2 linked regions of the Homo sapiens genome follow. The protein of the gene in region 2 purifies or fractionates together with the protein of the main gene of each other region. This does not show direct contact. Each region holds a gene or a part of one and is shown on either strand. Other genes may lie near its edges.

What was found.
Region 1: the proteins of CDHR2 (region 2) and MRS2 purify together in Homo sapiens (affinity purification with mass spectrometry; one large-scale study listed by BioGRID and IntAct). This does not show direct contact.

The regions. Positions count from the first base shown.
Region 1 is NC_000006.12:24,409,428-24,413,246, reverse strand, and holds part of MRS2 (magnesium transporter MRS2 homolog, mitochondrial isoform b precursor), read right to left. Parts: intron 3,787-3,819; coding exon 3,674-3,786; intron 2,521-3,673; coding exon of another isoform or gene 2,448-2,520; intron 1,026-2,447; coding exon 852-1,025; intron 1-851. UniProt on the Homo sapiens protein: Magnesium transporter that mediates the influx of magnesium into the mitochondrial matrix and regulates magnesium metabolism. Also permeable to calcium, sodium and potassium ions.
Region 2 is NC_000005.10:176,580,113-176,583,931, reverse strand, and holds part of CDHR2 (cadherin-related family member 2 precursor), read right to left. Parts: intron 2,590-3,819; coding exon 2,350-2,589; intron 1-2,349. UniProt on the Homo sapiens protein: Intermicrovillar adhesion molecule that forms, via its extracellular domain, calcium-dependent heterophilic complexes with CDHR5 on adjacent microvilli. Thereby, controls the packing of microvilli at the apical membrane of epithelial cells.

The sequences.
Region 1 (3,819 bases), on a different chromosome or scaffold from region 2:
TCCCTTTAAGATCCCTGTCTTTCTCCTAACAGCATGAGCTCCTGAGAGCTTACCCAGCCTGTGGAGCCCATGACTTACCACTGTTTACATCTTCTTTCTCTCTTCTGCTTTCCCCCTGCTTGGTAACTGGGCTCCCACTACTTATCATCTCACTGGCTGGTGCTAGCTGGTGCTCATTAATTACCCCAAGCAGGAAGTGTAGCCATCTATTCTTTCAGAGCAAGGCAGACAAAAGAAAAGTGTGCCAGGTTCACCCAACCCAATGCACCTCATGTCCTCTCTACCCTCTCTCCTCCTCCCACTCTGGTTAGTATGCTCCCAGCACCAACTCTTGCATGTAGCCAGTTCCTGAACAGTACCATCCTGACTTAACAGGAGGAAGAAAAGATAATGAAAGATTTGTGGGGTCAGGGAAGCAGAGAACCACCCTTGTTTAGAGCCTGACAGGAGTCTCAGACATCTAAGGACTCTTAATTTAAAGGAGGAGTCACTGGAAGAACTGTGCGTGATTCCTATGTCAATCTAGGTCTCAAAAAGATGCATCATTTACCTGGCTCAAACAAAGGATTGTACAAACAAATCAAAAAATGACTTGATGAAATGATTTAATAAAATAATTATCACATGTCAAGCATTTTTATAATATACATAGAGTCTTTAGTTCTATTTGACTGGGTCATAACATTTAAGAATTAAGTGATATCTCCATGTAGGATCCTTAGAGACGACTTGTTTCGGGGCAGGATGTGGTCAGGGGACATGCCATTGAAACAATACCCCAACTTGTCTTCCCACTCAATGACATTTCAAAATCAGAATAAACCCAAGAAGCTAAATAAAAACAGACTTACCCAATATTGCAGGAGTGCTTCTATAGCTCTAAACTCAAAAGGTAAAGGGTATGTAACGAGTTGACCCTCTCCAGACAACTGTGAAGGGAGTTCCCGGAACAGCCATTGCTCTAAGTTTAAATTACGATAATCTAATATCAGAAGACACTCTGGAGTTATCACAGCTTTCAAATACTGTTAAAAAAAAAAAAACCAAAACATATAAATATGTGAGTGTATATACACACATGCATGTATATACATATATATGTATACATACATATATATATGCAAATTGTAGAGCTGTAGGAAAAAAGAACATTCATAAAATTTGGTTTAATACTTTACTAATTGTGGATTAAGACTAAACCAAATCAGTGTTCATTTTTGTTTTTCAAAAAAATCAAGGTTTTTTTTTTCAAAAGAAAAGAAACTTAAAAAATATATGTCTTGATACTGCTAACTCACTCTCAATAAAACTGGAATTATTCACATAAATTATATATTTACTAAGACTTCTGGGGTAATCATGAAAAAAAAACAAAAACAAAAAAAAAAACACCAAAAAATACCCCCAGAAAGCCGGGCATGGTGGCTCATGCCTGTAATCCCAGCACTTTTGGAGGCTGAGGAAGGTGGATCATGAGGTCAAGAGATCGAGACCATCCTGGCCAACATGGTGAAACCCCGTCTCTACTAAAAATACAAAAATCAGTTAGGCGTGGTGGCCCACACCTGTAGTCCCAGCTACTTCAGAGGCTGAGGCAGGAGAATCGCTTGAACCTGGGAGGCGGAGTTTGCAGTGAGCTGAGATTGTGCCACTGCACTCCAGCCTGGCGACAGAGCGAGACTCCGTCTTTCTTTTTTGGAAAAAATAAATAAATAAATAAAGGGAACAAGATAAGGTCTTCCTAAAAGTCAGGTATTGAGCAGACTTTTAGAAAAGATTTAGTTTAATCATAATTAGTTTGGCACAAATGGAAGTTTCCTTTTTAAAACACCACTAAAGCATATAAACAAAATCTGAAATTAAGATGAAACATAGCCTTACTACTCTAATTTAGAACAATATGAAATTAGAATTTTTTCTAAAAAGACTGGTTATCTTGTATGTTAAAAGTAGATAAAGGTAGCCACTTTATCAGTGATATAGAAATTAGAGATAATTTTCTATTTTTACATTTTTCCAACATTCTATCATGAATTTTTTTTTCTTTTTTTTTTTTGAGATGGAAGTCTTGCTCTGTCACCCAGGCTGGAGTGCAGTGGGGCAATCTCGGCTCACTGCAACCTCCACCTTCAGGGTTCAAGCTATTCTCCTACCTCAGCCTCCTGAGTAGCTGGAATTACAGGCACCCGCCACCATGCCTGGCTAATTTTTGTATTTTTTAGTAGAGACGGGGTTTCACCATGTTGGTCAGGCTGGTCTCGAACTCCTGACCTCAGGTGATCCACCCCTCTCGGCCTCCCAAAGTGCTGGGATTACAGATGTGAGCCACCACAACCTAGCCTCATGAAAATTTTTATACAGAAAAGTTGAAAGATTGCAGTGAACACCATATACCCACCAGTTAGATTACACAATTATCATTCTGCTGAATTTGCTTTTTCACATACCTGTCTGTCTCTCCATGAAAGAGACACTGTTTTGAAGAATGCTAGCTACTGATTCCAAGAGTAGAGAATATTTCTGAAGAAAATCACATGGGAGAAGACTGCTTCATTTTTGATAAAGTATTTTTTATTTACTTATTTATTTTTAGAGATGGGATCTTGCTATGTTGCTTAGGCTGGTCACAAACTCCTGGTCTCTGGTGACCCTCCCACTTCAGCCTCCTGAGTAGCTGGGACTAAAGGCACATGCTACCAATACTGGCCCATTTTTTATTATTTTGATTAGTTCTAGAAAAATGAACAAAAATCTGCCATCAAAGACTCTTTGAAGAAAGTCTCATACCCACTACAGGGCCAATACCATTCATCTATTTTTGAACCTAAACATTAGCCCACCAAAATAACTGAAACCCACATTAACTCTGAATCACTAAAGAAAGTCAAATTATTATTTGGCATGCTCTGAATAGGTAAGGGAAAATACAATATATTTCAGAAAGTTTTCCATTAAAAAAATTTAAACTGGCCAGGCACGGTGGCTCATGCCTGTAATCCCAGCACTTTGGGAGGCAGAGGCAGGTGGATCACCTGAGGTCGGGAGTTTCAGAGCAGCCTGACCAACATGGAGAAACCCCATGTCTACTAAAAATACAAAATTAGCTGGGTTTGGTGGCTTATGCCTGTAATCCCAGCTACTCAGAAGGCTGAGGCAGGAGAATTGCTTGAACCTGGGAGGTGGAGGTTGCAGTGAGCCAAGATCGTGCCAGCCTGGGCAACAAGAGCAAAACTCCATCTCAAAAAAAAAATTAAGGCTATAAAATTTAATGTCTATTCCTGTGCTATTTAGAAAGCCAGAATACATTTTTGGTAGCTCAGGTTATACTATAATTACATGTAACTGTACACAATTGGATATATATCTATTATAAATCAGGATTGTCTTATAGTTTCCAGAACTAGAGAGTAAATCCCAACAGTGAGAATGAACACCACAGTCAGAGCTTTTCCAACTTAAAACACAGCAGTGTTATGCCTATTGAACATGTGCATATAATCCATATAAAATGAGTTCTACTCATAATAGCATATTAAGCTATAAAACATCCTATGTTTCAGGTAGCTATTTCTATTCCAAAATTACTTTTAACCTAGATACTAATCAAGATAGTTAGAAGGTAACTTTTATAAGATTGTATTGGAGAAACATAGATGAAAATAAAATATTTTACCTCCATTCTCATGATAATCCTATTGTTTCTGACTGTGATACTCATTACATGCTGAAATCTCAAATCTCTGGCTTGAAGACCTAACTCTTGGTATAATTCAGTTTTCTTCCTTTCTATAAAAGAAATAAACAGAGAGGGCTAAACCA
Region 2 (3,819 bases):
CTGACCACAGCTCAGGACTTGTTCTAGACCCTGCTTTCTAGAAGCACAGTTCTGGGTCCCCACCTGCGACCCTGCCTGGCCCAGCTTGACTCCCATCTCTCGGATTTATTGTGTTGGCACCAATACCATTATATGTCCACAAAGGCTCCAAGGCCCACACTTTCCCTTGTCCCCTCCTACCCCTGTCCCTCCTGCACACAACTGAGCCCACAACACCAGCTCTGTGCTCAGTCAGAGCTGGGCTCCGGGGACCTGCAGAAGCTTAGACCTGCTCCTGCCTCAGACACCAGCTGTTTTTGGCTCTCACCTCTGTGGCCAGCCCTAGCCCACTGGGCACAGCTGGAGCCCTGCAACTATTGTCACAGCCTGGAGGTGACTCTGCCCTCCCCTATGTCTCCTAACACTGGCATGTGCTTGGGGGATGCCCTGAGCACTCCAGCCCTTCCCAGGTTTGTGGGTCACATAACAGGTGTTTGTTTTTCTGAATAACCCTAGAATGAACATTTGGAAGACAACATTCTTGCACCTTAGCTAGATGTCTTTTCTGCTGCTAATTTCCCAGCGATGACATCATTGGCTCCACGCACAAGACCAGCTGCATTCTCAAGGTCACCCTAACTCACAGGAGTGGATAAGAGCACTGAGTCACATCTTGCTCCACCTCTGCCTCATGTGTGACCTTGACCTCTCTGGACCTCAGTGTCCTCATCTGCAAAATGGGGTAGTAGTCCCCACTAATAGGGCAATTGTGAGGACGGCTCACAGGGGTGAAGAAACCTGTTCACTCAGGAAATGAAGTTCTCTCTTTGCAGCCCTCCCACCCTAAGGACAACCAGCAAGTCCTCATTCTGCTTCGTTTTCTTCATTTCTGAGGTCTCACTCTCTGACCCTTGTGTGAAAATGGCACATCCCAGTCCAGGGGACACAGGGCTGCTATGTGCAGTGGTGCAGGCTGTGCACTGCACAACCCTATGGGGTGCCATCCACATCACAGACACGGCAGAGGTGCACATTTGTCACAATACTGTTCCAGAGGAAGGTGCCTTGTGGGCTGGTGGCAGCCTTAGAACCAGACTGATTGAAGTCAAAACCCAATTTTGTGACCCCCAGGCAAGGTACTGAACCTCTCTGTGCCTCAGTTTCTTTTTTTGAGACAGGGTCTTGCTCTGTCTCACAGGCTGGATTGCAGTGGCATGATCATAGCTCACCGCAGCCTCAACCTCCTGGGCTGAAATGATCCACCTGCCTCAGCCTTCCAAGTAGCTGGGACTTCAGGTACATGCCACCATGCCTGGCTAATTTTTTATTTTAGTAGAGATGGGGTCTCGCTATGTTGCCCAGCCCAGTCTCAAACTCCTGGGCTCAAGCAATCCTCTCACCTTGGCCTCCCAAAGTACTGAGGTTTTTGGCATGAGCCACAGCAACTAGGCCCGCCTCAGTTGCTCAATCAATAAAACGGTAATAAACCGGGCTCAGTGACTTATGCCTGTAATCCCAGCATTTTGTGAGGCTGAGTTGAGAGGGTCGCTTGAGGCCAACAGTTCAAAATTGGCCTGGACAATAAGTGAGACTCTGATTCTATGAAAAATAAATTTTAAAAATTAGCCAAATTAGCCAGGCATGGTGGCACGCATCTTTAGTCTTAGCTACTTAGGAGGCCAAGGCGGGTGGATCGCTTGAGCTCGGGAGTTCAAGACCAGCCTGGGCAACATGGAAAAACCCCATCTCTACAAAAATAAAAAAATTAACCAGGCATGGTGGCATATGCCTATAGTCCCAACTACTCAGGAGGCTGAGGCAGGAGGATCGCTTGAGCCTGGGAGGTTGAGTCTGCAGTGAGCCATGATGGCACTATTGCACTGCAGCCTGGGTGACAAAGGGAGACCCTGTCTCAAAAATAAATAAATCAATAGATAAATAAATAAAAACAAAATGGTAATAACCATCCCAACCTTGGCGGATGCCCTGATGTGCAATAGACACCAGCAATGCTGATTTTCACCCCTTCCCTTTGCTTTTCAATGGTGGCAGGGAGACAGGAGGGTTTCAGGTGGGACTTTATGAGTGACAATTAGAGCTGATATTCACTGATACTGTCTATAGGTCAGGCACTCTACCAAGCACTTTCCATTCATTAACTCACTTAATCTTTAACCTTTTTCACCCCCGTTTTATAGATGAGGAGCCTGAGTGCCTAGGGAGGTTGAGTAATTGCCTGGGGCCATACGAGTGAGCGGGATTGTAACCCAGGCAGGCTGGCTGCAGAGGGCAGAAGTGTGACTCAAGCTGGAGGGGCTGGCTATCGGCTTGGGAGGCCCCCAGGCCCATCCTGGCTAAGCGAGGCCTTACCTCCACAGTGATGGTGACATTGACTTTGGTGCCGAGGACAGGCTCGCCGCAGTCAGACACAAGCACTGTCAGCACAATGCGGCCCTCCAGGGCGGGGTCGATGGCCTCTCTGTCCAGGGGCCCCAGGTTTCTGAGGAGCCCTGTGTCAGGGTCCAAGGAGAAGTTGTGGCTGTAGGGGCCAGGCAGCAGGTTGAAGAGCAGACGGCTGTTGTTGGTGCCCGGCTCATCATTGTCGTGGGCCTGTGCACGTAAGCAGGGGTTGGTCATCGGCCATCGGCATTCCCAGCCCCCAGCCCCTCCGATGCAGCCGGACCCTCCTCTCCAGCGCTGGCCCACGCAGGCAGTCATCAGGCCTGGAGCCCCTGGGCCCATCTCCCAGCCCCAGTTTCCCATCTAAGAGGCTCAGGTCAGCAGTTTGCAAGAGCTTCTGAGATCTTCAGCACTGAGGCCATTCTTTCATCTCACAAACGGCCACTGTGGACCTACGTGCCCAGCCCCGTTCCAGGTGCAAAGAAAGAATAGAGCCATCATCAAGACAGGCCCTTTTGCTACTGATATTCTAGCAGGAAGGGGGATATGGGGGCAGGAAATTGTAGACAAAGAAAGTTTTAAACTCATAAGTGTGAAGTCCAGCAAGATTCTCATTTTCCCATAATGACTACTTCAGTGCTATATACATATTTTTTCTTTTTTCTTTTTTCTTTCATACAGTTTCGCTCTTGTTGCCCAGGCTGGAGTGCAATGGTGCGATCTCTCTTGCTCACTGCAAACTCCTTCTCCTGGGTTCAAGTGATTCTCCTGCCTCAGCCTCCTAAGTAGCTGGGATTACAGGCACCCACCACCACACCAGGCTAATTTTTTGTATTTTTTAGTAGAGATGGGGTTTCACCATGTTGGCCAGGCTGGTCTTGAACTCCTAACCTCAGGTGATCCACCTGCCTCAGCTTCCCAAAGTGCTGGGATTACATACAGGCGTGAGCCACCACGTCTGGCCCTTCTTTTGTTTTGTTTTGTTTTCTTTTTTTTCTTTCTTTCTTTCTTTTTTTTTTTTTTTGAGGTGGAGTCTCACTCTGTTGCCCAGAGTGGAGTGCAGTGCCATGATCTCAGCTCACTGCAGCTTCCAATTCCTGGATTCAAGTGATTCTCCTGCCTCAGCCTCCCAAGTAGCTGGGATTACAGGCATGCACCACCACACCCAGCTAATTTTTGTAATTTTAGTAGAGATGGGGTTTCACTATGTTGGCCAGGCTGGTTTCGAACTCCTGATCTCAAGTGATCCACCCACCTCGGCCTCCCAAAGTGCTGAGATTACAGGCAGGAGCCACCATGCCCGGCCGTCAGCGCTATATGTTTTAAATAGCTGATTCTTCACTCACTTTGTATGTCTGTGAGTGCGTGTGTGAGTGTGTGTGAGTGCGTGTGTGAGTGTGTGTGTGAGTGCGTGTGTGAGTGCGTGCGTGAGTGTGTGTG